Homo sapiens: one gene and its partners. The protein of the gene in region 3 interacts with the protein of the main gene of each other region in a pairwise test. Each region holds a gene or a part of one and is shown on either strand. Other genes may lie near its edges.

Region 1 (7,047 bases), on a different chromosome or scaffold from region 3:
AGCACAGATATTTGTTTAAGGAGCTCACTGCAATCAGAAACAATACAGAGGATCTGTTATAAATAATTTATGGTAAGCCCTGAAGTAGACTATTACGCAGCCGTGTAAAAGAAAGAGGTAGGGCCGGGCGTAATGGCTCACATCTGTAATCCCAGCACTTTGGGAAGCCAAGGCAGAGCCCACAAGTTCGGGACCAGCCTGGGCAACATGATGAAACCTCCGTCTCTACAAAAATTACAAAAATTAGCCAGGTGTGGTGGCACATGCCAGTAGTCCCAGCTACTCAGGAGGCTGAGGTGAGATGACTTGGCTGGAGGTTGCAGTGAGATTCTACCACTGCATTCCAGCCTGGGCAACAGAGCCAGACCTTGCTCAAAAAAAAAAAAAAAAAAAAAAAAAAAGGGTAGTTCTCTATGTGTTGATGAGCATGAAGAGATTACCAGGACTTACTTGAGGGAAAGAGCTAGTGACAGAATAACATGTAAAATAAATAATAAAAATCATATAAATATGCACTGGGAACTGTGGCTCATGCCTGTAATCCCAGCACTTTGGGAGGTTGAGGCGGGTAGATCACTTGAGGTAAGGAGTTCAAGACCAGCCTGGCCAACATGGTGAAACCCCATCTCTACTAAAAATACAAAAATTAGCCAGGTGTGGTGGCACATGCCTGTAGTCCAGCTATTCGGGAGGCTGAGGCATGAGAATCGCTTGAACCTGGGAGGTGAAGGTTGCAGTGGGCTGCAATCATGCCACTGCACTCCAACCTGGGCAACAGAGTGAGACTCTGTCTCAAAAAAAAAAAAATCATATAAATATGGCTGGGTGCACTGGCTCACACCTGTAATCCCAGCACTTTGGGAGGCTGGGGCGGGCAGATCACTCGAGGTTAGGAGTTCAAGACCAGCCTGGCCAACATGATGAAACCCTGTCTCTACTAAAAATACAAACATTAGCTGGGCACGGTGGCACACGCCTGTAATCCCAGCTACTTGGGAGGCTGAGACAGGAGAATCACTGGAATCCGGGAGGCGGAGGCTGCAGTGAGCTGAGATCATGCCATTGCACTCCAGCCTGGGCGACAGAGCGAGACTCTGTCTCAAAAAAAAAAAACAAAAAAAGAGTTCAAGACCAGCCTGGCCAACATGGTGAAATGGTGAAACCTTATCTCTACTAAAAATATAAAAATTAGCCAGGTGTGATGATGCACACCTGTAATCCCAGCTACTCAGGAGGCTGAGGTAGGAGAATCACTTGAACCCGGGAGGCGGATATTACAGCCAAGATCACGCCACTGCACTCCAGCCTGGGCAACAGAGTGAACGAGACTCCATCTCAAAAATAAAAATCATATAAATTTAATTAAGTGGTTCTATATAGGAAAGATAAACAAATAAACACCAAATACTTAATAGTGGATTTCTCAAAGATAGAGGACTAAGAGAGGCAGTTTCTGGATAACTGTATCTCTGCCCTGTTACAAGGCTAGTTGTGTTGAATGGTCGAATATGTGACCAGCAGCGAGTAACTTAACCTCTCTGAGCCTCCACATCCTCATCTATAAAGCTCAGATCAAATACTGTATCCTGAGATTGTTATGAGTATGATGAGGACTAACATGAGATCTTTTAATGCCTGGCACAGAGTCCATGTTTGATAAACAGTAGCTCTTATTACTATTATCGTTATGTATTATTTCTATAGCCAAATATACATACATATGTAAAGTTTATCTTTTTTCTTTTCTTTTTTTTTTTTTGAGACAGGGTCTCACTCTGTCACGCAGGCTGGAGTGCAGTGGTGCAATCACTGCAGCCTCAACCTCCTGGGCTCAAGCGATCCTCCCACCCCAGCCTCCTGAGTAGCTGGGACTATAGGAACCACCATGCCCAGCTAATTTTTTATTTTTCTTTTTGTAGAGATAGGGTCTCACTATATTGTCCAGGCTGGTCGTGAACTCCTGGGCTCAAGCGATCCTCCTATCTCAGCCTCCCAAAGTGGTGAGATTACAGGCCTGAGCCACCGCGCCTAGCCTTACTTTGTCATTTTAAAGTCACTTGGTGATAACTGCAAGGGAGAAGACCCCAAGTTTTAGTGAATCCTCCATCTAGCTTTGAATTCTCACTTCAAACAAGGAAATATTCCCAAGGAAATACAAGGAAATACTCACATAACCATGTTTCAGAATAATCAACCACCCCAAACCTGCCTGTTTTCCCAATACCTTCTCCAAGCTCTGCCCATCTCAGCTAAGGCCCCATGCTTCCCATTTTAACACCTCAGCCAGGGCATGGCTGAAAAGCTCCTGTCAGCTCCTATGAGATTTCCCGTCTGACTTAATAAAGCAGGCTCCCAGGCAGAGGGGTCATGAGGGGCCCAACAGAGAGGTGCGAGGTGGGTCCCCGGCTCTCCCCAGGTGCTTCCTACCCCCAGAAGCCTGGCAGGAACCCAGCCACTGGAGCTCAGAGAGCCAAGGCACATGCAGCCTGGAAGGCCCCAGTGCTTACCTGCAGGGTCAGGTAGAGCCCGTGGGGGCTTCCGGGGCCAGCCCAGTCCACGCTAAGGGCTCGGCACTGAGCTAGGGCTGGGCGAGCTGCACTTCGGGCACTGGAGTCCTCGTCACCGCAGACTGGGGTATCTTTTCCACGCCCTGTCCCAGGACAGAGAGATAGGTGAGACACTCCGACCACTGGCCAAAGACTGCTAGCCATGGACCACTGGCCAGGGCCGCAGCTGAGCTCAGCTTTCACACATCCCTGGCTGGTCCAGATGTGGCCAGGAGGGGCTCACACACCCAAAAAACGCCTGCCCTGCAGAGGGGAAGGCCTGGCTCGGGGCAGTGGCTACGCTCCTTCCTTACCAAAAGCCGCCCAAAGATTCTCTTCTGGAAGGGGCCCAATACCCCACCGGAGGCTCCCCTATCCCCACAGTGGCTTTTGGGGCAGGCATCTGCTCAGCAGGGAAGTGGAAGGAAGCCATTGCCAGCCAGCCTGCATGAAGCTTTGAGGACTTGCACAGGGGCTATGGCTTTATTACCCCGGCTGCCTCTAGGTGGCAATTTCTTCCCTGACTTCATTAAGACAAAATCCAAACCAGGTGGCCCAGCCTCCGTTGCCTCCCCAAGCGTATTCAGAACCAGCTAACGTGCATCCCCTTGTGCCTCTGACACACCGCCTCCCTCACCCATGGGAGAGAGGGCGGGCTGTGGCAGCAATGCCCCAGCCACCCACCTCCACCTGCAGGGCTGAACAGGGTGGGATGGGGGCCAGCCTCACGAGTCATGAGGCACACTGCAGAGCCACTACCCTGGGGCGTAACAATATCCCGAGTGCCAGCCACTGGGCCAAGTGCTTTTCAGGCCTTACACACATTCTGTTTTTTTGGGCTTTTTTGTTTTTTTTTTTTTTTTTTTTTTTTTTTGAGACAGGGCCTCTCTCTGTTGCCCAGGCTGGAGTGCAGTGGTGCGATCTTGGCTCACTGCAACCTCCACCTCCCGGGTTCAAGCAATTCTTATACCTCAGCCTCCCGAGTAGCTGGGATTACAGGTGCGCACCACCAGCCCAACTAATTTTTGTATTTTTAGCAGACACAGAGTTTCACCATGTTGGCCAGGCTGGTCTTGAACTCCTAACCTCAAGTGATCTGCCCGCCTTGGCCTCCCAAAGTGCTAGGATTACAGGCGTGAGCCACAGCACCCAGCCTTTACACACCTTCTTGGTCCTCAGTTTGCTTGTCAATAAAATGGGGACAACTTCACAGCCCTGTGATAAGGATCAAATGGGATGAAATACACGTGGTGCCCATGTAGTGCCAGGCACACAGAAAGGGCCCACAGTACAGGCCAATAGGACTACAGTAGCCATCAGCTCCTCAAAACTCCCCAGGGAGGTGGGGGGCATTCTCCCCACCTGACAGGCAAAGAACCGGAAGCCTGGAAGGGTTAACAATGTGCCCAGGGTCACAGGGAGCCAGGATTCAAATCCCATGTGCTAATCAACCCTCTGCCAGCCAATTCTCAGGGTGGCAATATGGGGGTTGGTCGGGGGACTCAGAGGGGCCTGGGGCAGCTGAGCTGGCTGAGGCCCAGTGGCAGGCACGGCGCTTGCATTTCACACACAGGATTTCATCTGACCTTTGTCTTAAATTTTTTAAGTGGATAAAAGTCTGTATGGTCATATAATCTTCATAATACCCAATTTTTTCCTTCAGGTTAGAAAGCTGAGATAACACAATATTTCAAAGACCTATATGCATGCACACACACACACAGACACACACGACTAGAAGGCACTACATAAAATGTTCAGTGACTAACTTGTGATTTTTATTTCCTTTTTGATATTTTTCTATGTGTTTTAAGTTTTCTAAGGGAAAATGCTTTTGTTTTACCGGAAAAGCAATACTCATTCATATTACATTTGTAATACTTAGGACAACCTTATGGGGTAGAGGCCATCCTCTGCCCCTTTCAGACAACTGGGCTACCTGGCCCAAAAGCCCAGGCTTTTCCCCAGGCCCCTGGGTCATCCCCAGCCTGGCTGTGCTGCTTGGGAGCAGCCAGCCCCAGACAACCATAGAAGCAGAGAGACCTCGGAAGGCATCAGTCCAGCTGCCACTGACAGCACAAATGTGGTGGGAGAGAGGGGTGAACAGGAGTTTGCTGTGTGCCCTCTCTGGGCCTCAGTTTCCCCTTCTGTGCACCAAGGGGCTTGGACCTGATGGCCCAGAGGGACTCTGCTAGCTCTCACAGGCTGGCAGTCTAGACCCTGTTCCTGTAGGTCACGAGGGACAGGGAGCAGACCCCTGAAGGCACCTTGCCTGGAGAGCCCTCTCTCCCCCACACTACCAGGGCGACCTGCCCACGCCTCGGGAGAGGGTCATGGACAGCTCCGCGGCCCCGCCAATCCAGTCCCGGCCCTGAATCAGAGAAGCCGCTCACTTCTTGACTTTCGCAGCACCGGGGGACATGACCCAGAAAGGCGAGCTGGCACTGACAGCTCCCCGGGGGGTACAGTGGGGGCCAAGACTCTGGGACCTCTGCCCACCTGCTGTCAGGGTCTCTACAGAAGCACCTGAAATGAGCACATGGACCCCAAGCCCCGCCAGGCCACGTTCCCGAGCAGCCTCGGTCCACTCCCAACGCCGTCCAGGGGCCAGCCCAGGCAGGATCAAGTGTCAGCGGCGCTTGGTGCCCAGGCAGCCACTTCACCTACCTTGTTTACCAGCCTGGGCAGAGACCGGAGCTAGCCCACACGCTCTTGGCCAAGGACGGCAGCCCGCAGAGCTCTGACCAGCTTGGCCAGAGGGAATGCAGCTGATTCCCCCTGCTCTGTGCCCGACCCGTGTTAAAGTTTAACCCGGCTTCCAGGTCTCCTCTTTTCCAGACAGGGGCGCAGGGAAGGAGCGCCCGGCGAGACTGACGCTCCGGCTCCACGCCCGCCTGGCTCTGGGCTGTCGGTTACCCTGTAATTACCTGACAGCTCTGACTGGGCTTAGGAACCGGTGAGAAACCTCAGTCTCATCTCTGGTATCTGGAGGAAGGAAGGGAAATAAAGAGGCATTTTAAAAATGCGGACTCACCAGTTCTCAACCTCCCCGGGCCGGTGTGTGGGAAAGGGCGGGCGGCCGGGCTGGCTGGGGCTGGGGCGGGGCGAGCCATCCCCGGCTCGGGCTCCGGGGCCCGGCCCACTCTCCACAGGCCCCGCAGCGAGGGCGTGGCTCCCAGGTTCCACGTCCTGCGAGAGGGGACCATGGCCTGGGGCTCAGCAGCCTCCTCGGGGCACCAGGCAGCCTGCGGAGAGAACAAGGGGAGATAAGCTTGAAGACCGTGGACCAGCACAACTGCACCTCGGGCAGAGCCAGCCATCTGGAAGGGTCTACGCCCCACCGGTCGCTGGTTACCCAGCGCAGCAGCTCCAACTGCACTGTCCCCCAAAGACCCTAGGGCTCGCAGGATGAAATGGGGCCTGCTGCCTTTTGGGGGTATTTGTTTCCGAATACGGAGGCTCCGAAGTGCGAAAGTTGCATATCAGCTGTGCCTGAGACCCCACACCTGAGCCCTTCCCAGCTGAGCCTGGAGCCTGAGGACAAGCCAGGTCCTAGCCCCACACAGAGGAGGCACCGCGAGTCAGCAGCATCTCCGTAAGTCTAATCCTTTTCCTCCAAGACATCTAATTTTCTAATTGCACTTAACCACATGCTTAACCCTTAGGCTTCAGGCTGCTCTGCCTAAGGCCTGTCAGCAGAGCAGTGAATGCTCTGAATATTAACATTTCACTGAGGAGGGACTCAAAAGGGCCCTGACTGTGGCCAATGACAAGTGAAGTCTATATACAGTAAGTTCTCATTCATGTATTCGACTAGCCTGCGCTCTGTGCCTAGCATGTGGCAGGCACCGTATGGGTGTTGAGATACAAAGATTCATTCAGTCTTCATTTAATAATGCCTACTGGGTGCCAGGCATCTGCCAGGGGTCCTTTTGGATCAGAAGAGATGAGGCCTGAAAACTCCCAGTCAGAAGGGAGATAAACACTTCAAAAAAACCCTCACAGTCTGAGCAGGCTACTGGAGGCGGCAGGTGCGAGCCAGGCACCAGGTGGTGTGGGGAATGGAGGGGGGCAGAGAGCATTGGTCAGGGATAGAAAGCTTCAGTCAGGGATAGGTCCCTCATGAACTGAACAAATGAACAGAGCTCAGGTATTCCCTGCAGAAGTCTTTATTGAGCACCTACTGTGTGCAAAGCAACCTTGAGGACATTTAAGGTGATCATGCTACAGTCCCAGACTCAGACAGTAATGTCATTTACAGAAGAAGCGAAGTCAGCTTGGAGAGGCAACATGGGGTTTTAAGATTGAGGTGGGGGTAACTGAAGGACTTCCTAGTGGAGCTTCCTGGGCTGTCGACTACTCTCCCCATCCGTCACTGCAGTGGCCACTTCCTGCCAGGAAGTGAAGATAGCTATTTGAAGGGTGTCCACCTCCCCTGACCCACTATGGGCCCACACACATTCATGTTTGCAGCCCCACTGCACCCAGTCTGCAGCTGCAC
Region 2 (7,047 bases), on a different chromosome or scaffold from region 3:
TGACGAAACCTTGTCTCTACAAAAAAGACAAAAATTGGCTGGGCGTGGTAGTGTGCACCTGTGGTCCCAGCTATTCGGGAGGCTGAGGTGGGAACATGGCTTGAGCTCAGGAGGCAGAGGTTGCAGTGGGCTGAGATCACACCACTGTAGTCCAGTCTGGGCAATTCAGCCAGGCCTTGTCTCCAAAAAAAAGAAAAAAGAAAAAAAAAAAGAAAGTGAACATGGAACTTAGTAATATACATTTGTCATCAATTCCTTAAGATGTTTTATTCCTTTCCTCCTTTCCATTTAGTATGAGTCATTTTCCCCCTAGCACTACATTCAGTACAGGATACCTCATAGTGTTTAAGGAGCTTCATGGGTTTATCTTACTCATACAGAGGTTTTCTTAAACCTAAAAACAAAGGCTTTTTGATACAGTTATTGTTTGAAAAAACTGCATATCAAATAGAATAAGGACATTATAAATGATGAAAGCATAATTTATAAGTAAAATATGATAGTGATGAAGTTTTAGGCACTGCAGCAGCAAAGTGTCTTCAGATATGATACTGAGCAATCCACATTTTTTCTTTACAAAATCACAATCATATTTAAACTCCAATTACAACAGCAACAGAAAATGAAACACCTAAGAATACATTTAAGAGAAATATGCAAGATCTTCATGATTGGTCTGTAAAGAGTTAAAGGCCATAATGAAAGATCTGAATAGAATAAAGTATCATTTTTTTACTTAATATGAAGAATAAACATCGTAAAGATGGCAATCTTCCTCAAACTGACTTACACACTTTGAAATTCAAATCAGAACTGCATAATTTTACTTTTTTACTATTACTGTTGGAACTTCATAATAAAATTCGACTATTAAGGATAAATATACGAGAACAGTAACGAAACTTTTGAAACGAAAAATGAGGGAAGAGTTGCTTTACGAAATACCAAAATGGGCCGGGCGCAGTGGCTCACTCCTGTAATCCCAGCACTTTGGGAAGCTGAGGCAGGCAGATCACGAGGTCAGGAGTTCGAGACCAGCCTGCCAGCATGGTGAAACCCCGTCTCTACTAAAAATACAAAAAGTTAGCCAGGCGTGGTGGCACGTGCCTGTAGTCCCAGCTACTGAGGAGGCTGAGGCAAGAGAATGCCTTGAACCCGGCAGGCAGAGGTTGCAGTGAGCCAAAATCATGCCATTGCACTCCAGCCTGGGAGACAGAGCAAGACTCTGTCTCTCAAAAAAAAAAAAAAAAAAAAAAGCAAAATGAATTCTGAGACAACAAATACAATAGTGTGGTACTACAACAGAAATAGAACAATGGAATAGAATCCAGAAAAATAAACATATATATAAATTTTAAAAATAAACTCATATATAAATATATGTAAACTATATTATAATATAAACTCTCATATATATTTCATATATATGTGACAATTTGGCATATTTTAAAGGTTCCATTTCAAGTCCACGGAGAGTGAGCAGATTATTTCAGTAGATAACATCAGCTCCAATGCCATCTCCTGAGAGGGGCCACTCCTCTGCTGAGCTAAAACAGCCCTGAGTGACACTCTACCATGTTCCCCTGCTGCGTCCTCATCACAGCACCTAACACTATCCTCAACCACATTTCCTCTTTATTGTCTGCATCCCCTGTGGAAAATAAGAGCTCAGAGAAGGAGATCTTGCCTCTCTTACTCACTGCAACACTCCCAGTATCCAGAACACGGCACACCACATGGCAGAGAAGCGCTAAATATGTTTAATGAGTGGATGGATGGATGAAATGCTTCACCACATCATGTTAAATGAAGTTAGATCCCTACTTCACATCACAGACAATACATTCCAGATAGCACAAGGATGTAAATTTAAAATTATAAAACTAATAGAAAACACAGAAAAAGATTTATATTATCTTGGGGTACAGAAAACTTTTCTTTTTTTTTTCTTTTTTCTTTTTTGGAGATGGAGTCTCACTCTGTTGCCGGGCTAGAGTGCAGTGGCACAATCTTGGCTCACGGCAACCTTCACCTCCCGGGTTCAACCGATTCTCCTGCCTCAGCCTCCCCAGTAGCTGGGACTACAGGCACGTGCCACCATGCCCAGCTAATTTTTGTATTTTTGTATTTTGTAATTTTGTATTTTTAGTAGAGACGGAGTTTCACCGTATTGGCCAGGATGGTCTCAATCTCTTGACTTCGTGATCCACCCACCTCGGCCTCCCAAAGTGTTGGGATTACAGGCGTGAGCCACCATGCCAGGCTCCTTTTCATAGCATGATCCCAAAGCCAAGTAAAGAGAAAGGAAATTTAACTGCATAAAACTTCAAAACTTTTTTGTAGCAAAATATATTATAAACAAATTTAAAAGAAACATGACAGAATACTGGCAACGTATAGCAAAGGAATACTATCCACTTTATAGGAAAGACCTCTTTTATATGTAAATAACTCAATATAAAAATGGGCAAAGGGTGTAGACAGGTATTTTAAAAGGCTGGAAGAATGTACATCATAGTTGTTTCTGAGGGTTGGAAACTTGGAATTCTCTCTCATTGCCTTTAAATTTTTAAAAAGGGATAGTAGATATGATTAGTCTATATGCCCAATATTTATATTCAAAAAAATATTAAATTTAAAGGCAAATAAAAGTAACACCTAGACAATTCATACTACCATCACTGGCCAATATGGGAAAGATGAAACTACGGAGAAAGATGAAAAAAGGAAAACAGCTCTAATGTTGCATTGATATGTCCCAAGTCTATTACTGTACTTCGTAATTGCATTCCATTTACAGGTTATAAACACATCTAGTTGACAATTACACTTTATTTCTCAACATCTGAGTTACTCATTTCTCATCTACTGTACAGTTCCAAGTGATTCATCAGTAATTCAGAGAAGCAGCAACAAAAGTGACAAAATGCCTGTCATCAGCTGCTATCAAGTGTCTAGACTAATGTCCCTTAAGGCAGACTGGTTAACTAAACTATGATATGCCCACATAATCAAAGAAAGAAGCCCCGATGTACTGATATGGACAGGTCTCCAAGATATATTGTGAAATGCAAAATAGCTAAAAATAGAACAGGTGCAGACTCCTGAGTAAATATTATCTGTTATCAACTGGATTAAAAATTGGGAAAATACATACTTTTATGGGCTTTTGTAGTCATCTCTGGAAAGCTACATAAGAAATGAGAATCATTACCTTTTTATGAGAAGAGATAATAGGGAGCTTGGAGACAAGAGTAGGAAGAAGATTTATTTTAAGTGAATGCTTATTTTTGAATTCTGAACACTGACTGTATCAGCCATTCAAATTTTAATTAATCACAATCTGAATCAAATTATCAGCAAACATCAAACAAACCCACATTGAGGATCATTCTATGAAATAATTGGCCTGTACTCTTCAAAAGTATCCAAGTCATTGAAGATCAATAATGAACTTTTCTAGATAAAAGGAGACCAAGGAGATACGACAGCTAAATACAATGTGTGATGTGGATTGGATTCTGCACCAGATAAAGGACAGTTGTAGGACAGGTGGCAAAATCCAAGTAAGGTTTGTAGTTTGGCTAATAGTATTGTATCGATGTAAGTTTTCCTTATTTTGATAACTGTATTTTTGCTAGGTATGATAATAGAAAGCACACACGGACACTTAGAGTGAAATGGGCATGTCTGTAATTTATTCTCAAATGGTTCAGAAATATATATACACAAACATGTGTGTGTATACAGGAAGAGAAAAATGGCAAAATGTTAATTTAGATGAAGACTATCCAGAAATTGTTTTATTTTTGCAGCATTTGTTGTTGTCTCAGTCTGTCTCCCAGGCTGGAGTGCAGTGGAGTGATCTCACGTCACTGCAACTTCCGCCTCCTGGGTTCCAACGATTCTCCCACCTCAGCCTCCTGAGTAGCTGGGATTACAGGTGTGTGCCACCACGCCCGGTTCATTTTTTGTATTTTTAGTAGAGACGGGGTTTCACCATGTTGGCCAGGCTGGTCTCGAACTCCTGACCTCAAGTGATCCACCTGCCGTGGCCTCCCAAAGTGCTGGGATTACAGGCATGAGCCACCGTGCCCGGCCTTGCAGCAGTTTTTAAAGTCTGAAATTATTTCATAATAAAAGTTAAAAAAAAAACAAACCAAAAAACCACAAGATGCATTTTCCACCCTTGAAAATAACTAAAATTTAAAAAGCTTATAATACCTAGTGTTATGAACTGTGTCCCCCAAAAAAGGTATGTTGAAGTCCCAGCTTCTAGTACCTTGCAATAGGACCTCATCTGAAAACAGGTTGTCTCAAATATGACTGGTATCCTTATAAGAAAAACGGCTATTTGAAGACATGAACACATAAGGATAACATCAGATGACAAAGGAGGTAAGGATTAGAGCGATGCAGCCATGAACCAAGGAACACCAAAGAGTGCCAGCAAACCACCAGAAGCTAGAAGCTAGGAAGAGTAAAGGAAGGATTCCCCCACCAGTTTCAGAGAGCAAGGCCCTGCAAATGCCTTCATTTCAGACTTCTGGCCTCCAAAACTGTGAGACAATAAATTTCTATTGTTTCGAGCCACTCAATTTGTGGCACTTTATTACAGCAGCTCTTGGAAATGGATACACCAAGTATGGAAGAGCATGTAGAGCGACTGGAATTCTCAAATACTGCAGGAGGGAATGTACAATGGTACATATACTTTGGAAAACAGTTTAGCTGTTTGTTACAAAGTCAAATGTACACTTGACCTAGGTATTTACCCAAGAGAAATTAAAGTATATATCCACAAAAAGACTCATACATGAATGTACAGAGCAGTTTTATTCATAATAGCTAAAAACAGGAAACAACTTGAAATGTCTGTCACAAGTGAATGAACAAAAGGTGGTATATTCAACTGTGTACTACTTAAGACAAAAAGGAACAAACTATTACTACACACAATATCATGTAAAGACCTGAAAAACATTACGTTGAGCAAAAAAAGCCAGGCATAATATATACTGTTTGATTTCATTGACATGAAGTTCTACAAAGGGCAATACTGTAGGGACAGAAATCAAACCAGTGACTTCCTGGGGTGGGGGACGTGGAGTAGAAGTGGCACGAGGACACTGTCTGGCTGGGGTGGGGGACGTGGAGTAGAAGTGGCACGAGGACACTGTCTGGCTGGGATGGGGGACGTGGAGTAGAAGTGGCACGAGGACACTGTCTGGCTGGGGTGGGGGACGTGGAGTAGAAGTGGCACGAGGACACTGTCTGGCTGGGGTGGGGGACGTGGGGTAGAAGTGGCACGAGGACACTGTCTGGCTGGGGTGGGGGACGTGGAGTAGAAGTGGCACGAGGACACTGTCTGGCTGGGGAGGGGGACGTGGAGTAGAAGTGGCACGAGGACACTGGCTGGCTGGGGTGGGGGACGTGGAGTAGAAGTGGCACGAGGACACTGTCTGGCTGGGGAGGGGGACGTGGAGTAGAAGTGGCACGAGGACACTGGCTGGCTGGGGTGGGGGACATGGAGTAGAAGTGGCACGAGGACACTGGCTGGCTGGGGTGGGGGACGTGGAGTAGAAGTAGCACGAGGACACTGTCTGGCTGGGGAGGGGGACGTGGAGTAGAAGTGGCACGAGGACACTGGCTGGCTGGGGTGATGCAAAAGTTCTGTACCTTGACTGAGGTGGTGGCTATGTTGGTGCATAAATTTGTCAAAACTCAATGAATTCTATGCTTAAATTGGGTTATTTTATTAAACTGTGCCTCAGAAAAAGCTGATTTAAAAATTAACACTATTTTGGCTACATAAATTAAAATGTAGGTTACTGACAACCAAACCACAACAGTCATCAACCAAAATCTTCTTAATGCTTCCCCTTTCAACATTTCCCTCTTCCAGAAACTCCCTTTGTCCAATACCCCCATTTTAAAAGTTATTTTGCCTTTTATAACTGAGTTTGATAATACTGAAGAAAGCAGTACAAATGGAAATCACAACAGTTTATACTTGCCTCCACGAAGCTTTCTTTAAACTGGTCTCTAATAAATAAACAAGTGATCCTAATAAATCAACGACCCCTAATACATACTTTTATGAGAAGAGAAAATGCCGTTAAGTCTTCAGTATTCCAGACAACAAGGCTAAGTAAGTTTAACCTTAAAAAAAAAAAAGAAGTTAGGGCCAAGTCTTCTGATGCCTTATTTTCTTTTTCAGAGAAGCCTGGAATCCTCACCTACTATCCCAGCTCCATGCTTCCCTCCATCTCACGGACACTACTTTTTCCTAGGAAAGTTTTGATTGTGCGAACTCCCTTATCAAAATTCCTCAGACTGACCTCCACCCCCATGGCCACCACCCTGCCAAACACACAAACTCCTCCTTCCCGACACTTGGTCCTAAAATTTTTATCCGATTTCTTCTACTCCAGCAGAGCATTTCTCACTATCAGTCACTGCCCCCTTCAGTCCACCTCTAAAAGTCTATACACAGGCTCTTGGCTGGGATGATACTAAGAATGCCTACAACTTACTGAATAACTTCAACATTCCAGGAGCCATGCCAGGCATTTTTTACTTTTATTATTTTATTTGAACTTTCAACAGACCTATGAAGTAGCTATTACTATTAAATGAAATCAGCCAGGTGACGTTCTTCATGTCACCTATATGGCAGACAGGTAATGCTGTAATTCCTATTATGACCATGAGAAAATAATGTTTCAGGAAAGCCAAGCCTCTTGCCAAGACAATGTAGCTATTAAATGGTAGAGCTGGGATTTAAACTCTGGACACACTGACTCCCTTATAACAAATCCTCTCCAGTTATCCCTTCCCAACCCCTGAGATGGGCAAACACTACCTACTTCTCCTGGCCACCACCCTGATCCTCCCCTTCACTCCAGCTTGGAATACGGATAAACTGGGTCCCTAACCACACTTGTTCTTATTACCATATTCAGGTGCAATTATGACTGTATACCATGCAGATGTGCCCTCTTTTATGATCCCTGAGAGCCCATAAGCCCTATAAGCACCAGCACC
Region 3 (3,679 bases):
AAAAGACCACATCTTTTCCAAGGGACATTTTTCCTGGAAAGCCCCTGGAGCTTAGGGGGCTCTCATCCTGTGAAGCGGGCTCTGGCCACTAGGGGGCAGGGCCATTAACTCAGCCTGGAGGGCGCCGGCAGGGCGGCTGGCATTCTGGAGGGACAGACAGAACAGGCCACCAGGCTCAGGCAGGCGAGGGAGGCAGGGGGACAGAATGGAAGACACCTGGGCTGGATGGAAGTCAGTGCCCTTGGGTGCTGGCATCCTGTCTTCCTGGCCACCGCTAGATCAGGCTTCTGAGCCTGTTGGCCATCGGGGCCAAACTGTCCCCATAGGTACCATGGTAGTCCCCGTGTAATCCCCAAGATGTCACCAGGCAGCATACAGGTAACAAGCCTGGAAGGTCCCAACAGCCCAGCTGCACATGCTCAGACACTCTGGGGCTCCCTGTTCAGTGGCACAAACTCCAGGACCCAGTGAGAGAAACAGGAACACATCAGGCAGAGCAGTATGGCTAAATCCATTTATTCCGAAATAAAAAGCAAAATAAACAGGAGTCGCATCACCAGGGCGCCACGACCCCATCCCCGCCTCCTTCCTCTGTCCTATGCTATCAATAAATAAGTTTCCCAGCCCCAAATAATTATTAGAACCTCCTCCCCATGTGCCAGCTCCAACCTCTGCTAGGTATGATACAGGGGGCGGCCCTACCCCTGGAATATACAAAATGTTACACAGATACAATATGTACACTGGGGAAGCAGGGCCACCCCAGCAGCCCGTGCCCTCGCCTGGTCTACAGTTAGCCCCACTGTCCTGCCTCAGCTGCCTCTCTGTGTAAGAAGATGGGAGCCCCCCTGAGGGAAAAATTGCTTTGGTGAGAGTAAGGAGGCCATGAGGCCTCTTCCAAAGAGGCCAATTATATGAGCCTCTGGCTATTAAATAACAATCATCATCATCCAGAAATTTAAGGAGTCAGCCCTGGCCAAGGTGGCTAAGGGTCTACACATTTGTCTCCCCCCATTAGACAGGGGTCTTATTTGCTACTGTAAGAGTAAAGGGATGACTGGGAAGGGGTGGCAGGCACATGATGGGGGCGGAGCCTCCGGCCCCACTTCTCCAGGCTTTGCTGACAGTGGCCTGCTTTTTAAAATTTTTATCCTGACTTTCTTTAATCCCATAACTTTTTTCATAATTTTTTTTTTTTTTGAGACAGAGTCTCACTCTGTCGCCCAGGCTGGAGTGCAATGGCGTGATCTCAGCCCACTGCAACCTCCACCTCCCAGGTTCAAGCGATTCTCCTGCCTCAGCCTCCCGAGTAGCTGGGATTACAGGCACGTGCCACCATGCCTGGCTAATTTTTGTATTTTTAGTAGAGACACAGTTTCACCATGTTGACCAGGCTGGTCTTGAACTCCCAACCTCAGCCTCCCAAAAGTGCTGGGATTACAGGCGTGAGCCACTGCACCTGGCCTTTTTTCATAACTTTTATACCATAAGTTACCCATAACCTTTTTTATCCCATAACTTTTTTTAATCCCATAACTTTTAATTTTTTTTTAATTTAGTGGCCAGCTTTTAGATGACAGTGATCTTCACCTCATCTGCACCTGTCTACCCCCGTTAGACAGGGGTCTATGCTTGCTACTGTAAGGGTAAAGGGTTGACTGAGAAGGGATGGTAGGGATATGGTGGGGGCAGGGTATCCAGCCCCACTTCTTCAGGCTTTGCTGACAGTAGCCGGCTTTTAGATGACAGTGATCTTCACCTCATCATTCTCGTCAGCCCGGTAAAAAAAAGGAATGCAGGGGTTGCTGCCCAAGCCTGGGCGCTCCCGGGGGTTCTGCATCTCACGAAGCAGCTGCATGATCTGCTGTGCAGTGGGGTTGTCACGGGGAGAACCCTCCCTGGCCTCTCCTTGGGCAGGCTCCACACTGCCGGCGAGGCTCACCTCGCAAAGATCTTTGGAGAGAGAGAGGCAGGGCTCTGAGTGCCACGCGAGCCCTCCCTTACTCCTGCCTGCCCACCCCTCCCGAGGGCTCTACTCACCACCCTGCTGGTTGGCAGCCCCAAGTTCCTGGGGGGCTGGGGCCCCTGAAGTGGGCTCATCAGCAGGGTTCTGGGCAGCTGCCAGGAATCTGCCATGCCACTCGTTGCGGTCGCCCACAAGCCGTAAGACCAGCTCCTGCAGCTCCAGCAGCTTCACCTGGAGGGAGGGGTGCTAAGCTGCCATGCCCATGCCCGTGCCCACCTCCACCCCCAGAGATGTTCCACACCCTACCTTCATCTCCTCCTTGTCTTGGGCCAGCCTGCTGATGTACTCCTCCTTCTCCCGGTGCCGCTCCTTCAGCACTGCCCTCTGGCTCTGGTACAGTGCAATGTACTCTCCTGCGGGAGGACAGGGCTCAGATGCTGGGTTCCCTCCGACCGCTGTGCAGCTCCTCCTGCCGTGCCCTGGCCTCCCACTCACCAATGGTGTCTGTCTCTCCAGAAAGCTGGATGCAGCGATGTTCCAGTTCCTCTACCCTCTCCTTCAGGTCTGCCTTCTCCTGCATGAGCTCCATAAAGCGGCTCTGGAACCAAAATAATGGAGTCATATATCGGCAGCGACCTGCCCCGCCCCCACCCTTCTTGACCCATGCCAGGAGAGACTCATTCACCTGCAGCTTCTCCATGGCCCCCTGCAGGGCCCGGTGGGTCTCCCCACACACAGAATCACCCCCGGTCCCTGGGGCTGGGGCTGCTGCCTCAGGCTCCTTCTGGGCCGAGGCCAGCAGGTGAGCCAGGCGCCGGCAGCGCACCCTTTGCTCCTTCAGCTGCCCACGTAGCCTTGCCTGCTCCTCCTCGGCACTGGCTACAGCTGAGTTGAAAAATGCCACCTGCAGGCAAGAGGGGTGCATTCTTGTAGGAGGATATATAGGATGAACAGGGCAGGGAGGTAGAGAGCAGCCCTTCCCTTGGGGCCTCAGAGGGTGCACTTGTTGGTCCCAAGTGAAATGGTGTCTCACCACTGGCTCCCAGGAAAGGGGTGAGGGTCCGAAGAAATCAGAAGGCCGGGAAACCAAGAGCAGAAGGGGGTCTGGGAGGGACCACAGAGGGAGGCAGCAAAGGTTGGGGAGGGGGAGTCAGCCTCACCATGGCTTCCCGGCTCTCCAGGTCCTCCGGGATGCTTGGCATGGGCTGAGGTACTGCCACCGCCTCCTCCTCCTCCTCCTCCTCATCCTCCTCCTCCTCCCGGTCCAGTCCATCTCCTATGGGGGTGGCCAGAGGGGTCATCAGACAACCCAACAAGGGTACAGTGGGCCCACCTCTGCCCCCACCCTCACTGTGTAACCCTGGGCCAGCCCCTCCCCAGAGGGAAATAAGCATCTGTTCTTTATTTTTATTTTATTCTTTTTTAAGAGCCAAGGGCTCGCTATGCTGCCCAGGTGCAGTCCCACTACCGATCAGCATGGGAGTTCTGACCTGCTTCATTTCTGACCTGGGCCAGTTCACCCATCCTTAGGTAAGCTGGTAGTGCCCTGCTCCCAGGAAGTCACCATATTGATGCCGAACTTAGTGTGGACACCCAGTTGGCATAATGACCAGCTGTTCTAAAGGTCTCTTCCAACTCCTCAATTCTACGCTGCTAACAGTCCCCCCTTCTTCCTGGGGCTCTCTCCTCTTCCTGTGAGCAGGTTCCCGTACC
Region 4 (7,047 bases), on a different chromosome or scaffold from region 3:
CAGCAGTCTACCCACCCACCCTCCCAGGGAAACCCCTCGGGGCTGGGGCAGAACCCAGGATGAATGAGTGCAGGCGAGCACCCAGGTGTGTTAGTGTGTCCTTGGTGCTGGGTCCACTGCATTTGAGAGGCCCATGAGTAACTACGTACATGGCTTGTGTGAGCCTATGGGTGTGGGAGTGGTGCCATCTGTGAGCTGCAGGGTGTTGGCATGGCTGAGTGTGTGTTTCCCTAGGTGTTAGTGTAACTCTGTGAGACGCCATGTGTTAGAATGACTGTCTGAGATTGTGGGTGTTGGGAGATGCTCTGCGTACATCTCTGACTGTTGCTACAACTGTGAGTTCAGATCTCCAGGTTGGTATGACTGAGTCTCCGGGTGTTGGCACATCCGGATGCATGTGTCTGCATGAGTCTCTGGAGAGTGGTGTGATGCTTGAGGGGACCCTGGGTGCAGAAATGACTGAGGCCGGGCGCAGTGGCTCACACCTATAATCCCAGCACTTTGGGAGGCCGAGGCAGGCGGATTGCTTGAAGTCAGGAGTTAAATACCACCCTGGCCAACATGGCAAAATCCCGTCTCTACTAAAAATGCAAAAATTAGCCAGGCGTGGTGGCTCATGCCTATAATCCCAGCTACTTGGGAGGCTGGAGCAGGAAAATCACTTGAACCTGGGAGGTGGAGGTTGCAGTGAGCCGAGATCGTGCTATTGCACTTCAGCCTGGGTGACAAGAGCAAAACTCTGTCCTTCCCCACCAAAAAAAATTCAAGCTGCTGAGTGAGGTGGCTCACACCTGTAATCCCAGCATTCTGGGAGGCACATCACCTGAGGTGGGTGGATCAGTTGAGGTCAGGAGTTTGAGACCAGCCTGGCCAACATGGTGAAATCCCATCTCTACTAAAAATACAAACATTAGCCGGGCGTGGTGGTGCAAGCCTATAGTCCCAGCTACTCAGGAGGCTGAGGCAGGAGAATCACTTGAACCTGGGAGGTGGAGGTTGCAGTGAGCTGAGATTGCACCACTGCTCTCCAGCCTGGGTGATGGAGCAAGACTCCATCTCAAAAAGAAAAAAAATGTTAAAACCAATAAAAATGTTTTAAATTAAAAAACAGGCTGGGTGCAATGGCTCACGCCTGTATTCCCAGCATTTGGGAGGCCAAAGCAGGAGGATCACTTGAAGCCAGGAGTTCTAGCCAAGCCCTGGCGGCATACCAAGACCCTTTCTCTACAAAAAAAAAAAAAAAAAAAAAAATTAAATTAGCCAGGCATGGTGGTGTATGCCTTTAGTCCCAGCTACTTGGAAGGCTGAGGTGGGAGGATTGTTTGAGCCCAGGAAATTGAGGCTATAGTGAGCTTTGATCACACCACTGTACTCCAGCCTGGGTGACAAGGCAAGATCCTGTCTCCAAACAAAAACAAAAATAAACAGTCTTTGGTTATCATCCATGTAACTGTGGGAGTTTCTGGGTATTCGTGTGACAGTGTGCACATCCTTGAGTGTTGCCTGGGGTGTTGGCGTGGCTGTGTCTGGAGGTATTCGTGTGACAGTATGTGCACCCTTGGGTGTTGCCTGGGTGTTGGTGTGGCTGTTTTTTTAGGTGTTTGTGTGACTGCATGCACATCCTTGAATGTTGCCTGGGTGTTGGCGTGGCTGTGTCTAGAGGTATTCATGTGACAGCATGCACGGTCTTGAGTGTTACCGGGTGCTGGTGTGGCTGTATGCACCTCTCTGGGTGTTGGTGGCTACGGGGGTCATGGCATGCATCTCCCTGGGGGTCCGTGGAGATGGGTTAACCTGGCTCTGGAGACCATGGGTGAGCCAGTGAGCAGTGGAATCCCTGGAGTCCCGCATCCCCAGAGGCATCCCAGCTCACCGTGGGTGGCCGCCGGGTCGGGAAGCACCACGTGGGCGTGCAGCTCCTGCAGCTGCTGGTGCAGCAGGTCGAGGCGGCGCGAGGAGCCCCGCAGCAGCAGCTCTACGGGGCCCAGGCTGCGGCCCAGGTCAGTGGTGGCCCGCCGCAGGTTCTCAGCACCCTCCTTCAGCTTCAGCTCCTTGCGGATTTCCCGCCGCAGCCGCTCCCGCTCCAGCTCCAGCTGCTGCTGTACCCCGGGGGCCGCCAGGTCTGCCCCGGCCAGGCCCAGCTGCTCTAGCAGGGACCAGCTGCGAGGCTCACTCTGCGGAGGACAGAACAGGGTCAGTGGAGCTAGGAGAACTCCAGGTGCAGACCACATGCAGCCAGCCTGGCCCAGCCTCTGCCCTGGACTGGGGCTCCCAAGACAGGGCCTGCTCTACCTCCTCTGACTCCCAAAACTGGAAGGTGACGAGGCCTTGCCACTGCTTCCTGACCTCCCCAAACTGGGAGGTCTCAAGAGCAGGGCCTTGTCACCCCCACCACCACAGCGTCCCCCACATTAAGGGGGTCTCAAGAATAAGATCTGTCTCCCTTCTGCTGCCTCCCCCAAACTAGAGGGTCCCAAGGGAAGATTCCTTCTTTTCTCTGCTGCTCCCCGAAACTAAGAGGGCCCAAGGGCAGGCCCTGTCTTCTCTCTGCTGTACCCCTAAAACTACAGGGTCCTGAGGACAGGCCCCATCTTCCCTCACTTGTACCCTGAAACTATGGCATCCCGAGGGCAGGCCTCATCTTTCCTTGGCTACACCCCCAAAACTAGGGTATCCCAAGGGCAGGCCAAGTCTTCTCTCTGCTGTACCCCCAAACTATGGGGTCTTGAAGACCCTCATCTGCTCTTCTCCTATGTTCAACAACTGGGACCCTAAAGAACAGAGCCCGGTCTCCTTCCTTCTGTCTCTCCCCAATCTGGGAGCCCCGAAGGGCACTGGATACTCTCATCCTCCAGAGAGAGAACTCTGAGGCCAGTGCCCCATCTCCTCTCCTTGTTCCCAAACTGAGAAGTACCCGGGGAAGGACTACTGGCCTGTGCCACTTGGGGCCCCCTTCTGCCTGCCCCCACAGGGACCCTGGACCCCACCTCCAGCTCCTGCTCCGAGGGGTTATTGGCCTCCGCCATCCTGGGTCCGGGCTGAGGGCCCCGCCCTCTTCCTGAACCTCAGCCCCACCAGGGCCTCTCGGCTGCCACTTCCTCTTTCCTGTCAACTCCCAGCACCCCTCGCGCGGGGCCAACTCCAGGGCATCTAAGGGACCTCCTGTTCCTCTAGATGAAACCCAGGGACAGTCCTTGCTCCCTGTCCCTAGAGAATGTCCAAGGTGCAGGCAGTTTGTACATTCACACACTCATGGTGTATCCATGAGGGGACGCAGGCTCCGAGGGCTGACTTGAGTGTGCACTAACTTTCAAATACATATGTGGATATGCACAGAACACAGGCTCACAAATGTTTGCACGCTTTCTTTTTCTTTCCTTTTTTTTTTTTTTTTTTTTTTTTTGAGACAGAGTCTCCCTTTGTGTTGCCCAGGCTGGAGTGCACTGGTGTGATCTTGGCTCACTGCAACCTCCGCCTCCCAGGTTCAAGCAATTCTCTTGCCTCAGCCTCCCAAGTAGCTGGGATTACAGGCATGTGCCGCCACGCCCAGCTAATTTTTGTATTTTTAGTAGAGACAGGGTTTCACCATGTTGGCCAGGCTGGTCTCGAACTCCTGACCTCAGGTGATCCGCCCCCCTCAGCCTCCCAAAGTGCTGGGATTACTGGACGTGAGCTACCGCGCCTGGCCTGTGTTTGCACAGTTATGGCTGCAGGTGTGTGCCTGCAACACAGGCTCACATGTGTGCACACTCCCATGCCTGTGTGTGTGGATGAAACAAAGATCCACACACAGGTGCACACTTCTACACCTGCAGGTGTGTGCCTGGAAAATGGGCTCACAGTGTACCCATTCCCATGCCTACCACATATGCACTTATTTGCAAACACATACAAGTGCTTATGAGCTTCCCTCTAGAACCCATACAAGACACACTCCCACCTGCCCGAGAGGGCATGGCCCACATGCTCATGCGTGTGCACATGCTCACACACATATGCACGCTCCCCGAGGCCCCTGCAGCACATCCATGCTCCCACAGACCTCCAGCCCTGCGACTACCTGCATATGTCCCTCCAGACTCTCCCAGCCACCCCTTGTCCCCGGCTTCCCCTTCAGGGTCAGAACAGCCACTTCTTCAGAGGTGAGGCCCCTTTCCTGCAGACGGGCCCTCCCAACTTCCTGCTTCCTCTCAGTCCAGTCGCCAACTGTTATTGACCATAGCTGAGAGGCCCGGGGTCCCAGCCAGCCCAGTGGCACCTCCCTCAGGCCAACACAATTAGGGGACAGCACTGGGGGACTGGGATAAGAATTTCCAAAACCAGGCCGGGCACGGTGCCTCACGCCTATAATCCCAGCATTTTGGGAGGCCGAGGTGGGTGGATCACCTGAGGTCGGGAGGTCGAGACCAGCCTGACCAACATGGAGAAACCCCGTCTCTACTGAAAAAAAAAAAAAAATACAAAATTAGTCGGGTTTGGTGGTGCATGCCTATAATCCCAGCTACTTGGGAGGCTGAAGCAGAATCACTTGAACCCAGGAGGCAGAGGTCGAGGTGAGCCAAGATCGTGCCATTGCACGCCAGAGCGAAACTCCGTCTCAAAAAAAAAAAGAATTTCCAATTTCCAAAATCACGCCGGGCGTGGTGGCTCACATCTGTAATCCCAGCACTTTGGGAGGATGAGCGAGGCAGATCACGTGAGGTCAGGAGTTCAAGACCAGCCTGGCCAACATGATGAAACCCCGTCTCTACTAAAAATATGAAAATTAGCCAGGCATGGTGGCACGTGCTTGTAATCCCAGCTGCTTGGGAGGCTAAGCATGAGAATCGCTTGAACCCAGGAGGTGGAGATTGCAGTGAGTCGAGATCACACCACTGCACTCCAGCCTGGGCGACAGAGTGAGACTCTATCTCAAAAAAAAAAAAAAAAAAAAAGAATGCCCCAAATCAGCAGCCTACAAAACCACTTGCTAAGCACACAGTAACATTCAAGAACAACTTATGATGGCATTACTTCCTGATAAGCTCATCATAAGTTGCAAATATCATAAGTCAAAAATGCATTTAATATATCTTACCTACCAAACATCATAGCTCACCCTGGCCTACCTTAAATGTGCTCAGAACACTTACCCAAGCCTATAGTTGGGCAAAAACGTCTAACACAAAGCTATTTTACAGTAAAGTTGAATATCTCATGTAACTTTTTTTCTTTTTTTTGAGACAGGGTCTTACTCTGTTGCCCAGGCTGGAGTGCAGTGGTGTGATCATGGCTCCCTGCAGTGTCTACCTCCTGGGCTCAAACAGTCCTCCCAGCTCAGCCTCCCGAGCAGCTGGGACTACAGGCATACGCCACCACACCTGGCTAATTTTTGTATTTTTCATAGACATGGGGTCTCACTATGTTGCCCAGGCTGATCTCGAACTCTTGGCCTCAAGTAATCCTCCTGCCTCGGCCTCCAAAAGTGCTGGGATTACAGGTGTGAGTCACTGCCCCGTGGCCAGGGCCTTGATTTAAAACAAGAGCACCCAGATTCCAAATGCTGGCTAGGAAATGGCCCCCTGGGGTTATCTCCTTCAGCTGGGAGCATCCATTTCACAGACAAGGAATGTTATCCTTGGCTCGTGACTGATCTCAAGCGCAGCTGCCCCCAGGGAGGAATGCCACAGACCAAGTGTATCACTCCCACCATCTTCCCAACCCTCACTACAAATCTTGAGCAGCTGCCAAGAACTCCCCACTTCACAGGTGAGGAAACTGAGGCTCAAGGAAGTCACAGTAGTATGTTTTGTTCGTTGGTTTGAGACAGAGTCTTGCTCTTTCGCCTAGGCTGGAGTGCAGTGGTGCAATCTCGGCTCACTGCAATCTCCACCTTCCGGGTTCAAGCAATTCCCCTGCCTCAGCCTCCTGAGTAGTTGGGACTACAGGCACGTGCCACTGCGCCTAGCTAATGTTTTGTATTTTTAGTAGAGACGGGGTTTCACATGTTGGCCAGGCTGGTCTCAAACTCCTGACTTCAAGCAATCAGCCAGCCTCGGCCTCCCAAAGTTCTGGGATTACAAGTGTGAGGCACTGTGCCTGGCCAGTAACAGTTTTCCATTGAGGGGAGATTTTCTCCCCATACCCGGGGACATGCGGCAACATCCGGAGACATTTTTGGTTGTCCTGACTGTGGGTAAGGAGGTGACTTCTATCAGGGTGAGGCCAGGGATGCCACTCAACGCCCTGCAGTGCACAGGACAGCCTCTACTGCAAAGAATGACCCAGCCCTGAATGTCAGTAGTGCTAAGGCTGAGAAGCCTACGGTTAAGGGTCATAGATTTGGCCAGGTGTGGTGGTTCACGTCTGTAATCCCAGCGCTTTGGGAGGCTGAGGCAGGAGCAGTGCTTGAGGTCAGGAATTGGAGATAAGTCTGGGCAACACAGCAAGACCTACAAAAATCTCTACAAAAAATAAAAAAGTATTGGCCAGGTGTGGTGGCTCTCTCTGCCTGTGATCCTAGCACTTTAGGAGGCCAAGGCCGGAGGACTGCTTGAGCTCAGGAGTTCGAGACCAGCCTGGGCAATAACGGTGAGACCCCATCTCTACAAAAAATGTAAGAATTAGCCAGGTGTGATGGCATGTGCCTGCAGTCTCAACTACTTGGGAGCCTGAGGTGGGAAGCTGGCTTGAGCCCAGGAGGCAGAGGTTCCAGTGAGCCGAGATCACACCATCACACTCCAGCCTGGCCAACAGAGCCAGGCTTTGTCTCAAAAAAGAAAAAAAGAGGCCAGGCGCGGTGGCTCATGCCTATAATCCCACCACTTTGGGAGGCCGAGGCAGGCAGATCACGAGGTCAGGAGATCTAGACCATCCTGGCTAACAAGGTGAAACCCTGTCTCTACTAAAAACACAAAAAAATCAGCCGGGCATGGTGGCGGGCGTTTGTAGTCCCAGCTACTTGGGAGGCTGAGGCAGGAGAATGGCGTGAACCCAGGAGGCAGAATTTGCAGTAAGCCGAGATCAAGCCACTGCACTCTAGCCTAGGCGACAGAGCGAGACTCCATC

Evidence for each region.
Region 1: the proteins of GOLGA2 (region 3) and KIFC3 interact in binary tests that used the Homo sapiens proteins (3 or more experiments, as listed by UniProt).
Region 2: the proteins of GOLGA2 (region 3) and ZFP2 interact in binary tests that used the Homo sapiens proteins (3 or more experiments, as listed by UniProt).
Region 4: the proteins of GOLGA2 (region 3) and PKN1 interact in binary tests that used the Homo sapiens proteins (3 or more experiments, as listed by UniProt).

The regions. Positions count from the first base shown.
Region 1 is NC_000016.10:57,792,492-57,799,538, forward strand, and holds part of KIFC3 (kinesin-like protein KIFC3), read right to left. Parts: intron 5,792-7,047; coding exon of another isoform or gene 5,753-5,791; coding exon 5,581-5,752; exon of another isoform or gene 5,214-5,580; intron 2,651-5,213; coding exon 2,508-2,650; intron 1-2,507. UniProt on the Homo sapiens protein: Minus-end microtubule-dependent motor protein. Involved in apically targeted transport. Required for zonula adherens maintenance.
Region 2 is NC_000005.10:178,898,906-178,905,952, reverse strand, and holds part of ZFP2 (zinc finger protein ZFP2), read right to left. Parts: intron 1-7,047. UniProt on the Homo sapiens protein: Probable transcription factor involved in neuronal differentiation and/or phenotypic maintenance.
Region 3 is NC_000009.12:128,255,329-128,259,007, forward strand, and holds the end of GOLGA2 (golgin subfamily A member 2), read right to left. Parts: coding exon 3,679-3,679; intron 3,243-3,678; coding exon 3,127-3,242; intron 2,871-3,126; coding exon 2,652-2,870; intron 2,565-2,651; coding exon 2,462-2,564; intron 2,380-2,461; coding exon 2,273-2,379; intron 2,198-2,272; coding exon 2,041-2,197; intron 1,954-2,040; coding exon 1,739-1,953; 3' UTR 501-1,738; downstream 1-500. UniProt on the Homo sapiens protein: Peripheral membrane component of the cis-Golgi stack that acts as a membrane skeleton that maintains the structure of the Golgi apparatus, and as a vesicle thether that facilitates vesicle fusion to the Golgi membrane.
Region 4 is NC_000019.10:14,436,270-14,443,316, reverse strand, and holds part of PKN1 (serine/threonine-protein kinase N1), read right to left. Parts: intron 3,041-7,047; exon of another isoform or gene 3,027-3,040; coding exon of another isoform or gene 2,988-3,026; intron 2,175-2,987; coding exon 1,874-2,174; intron 1-1,873. UniProt on the Homo sapiens protein: PKC-related serine/threonine-protein kinase involved in various processes such as regulation of the intermediate filaments of the actin cytoskeleton, cell migration, tumor cell invasion and transcription regulation.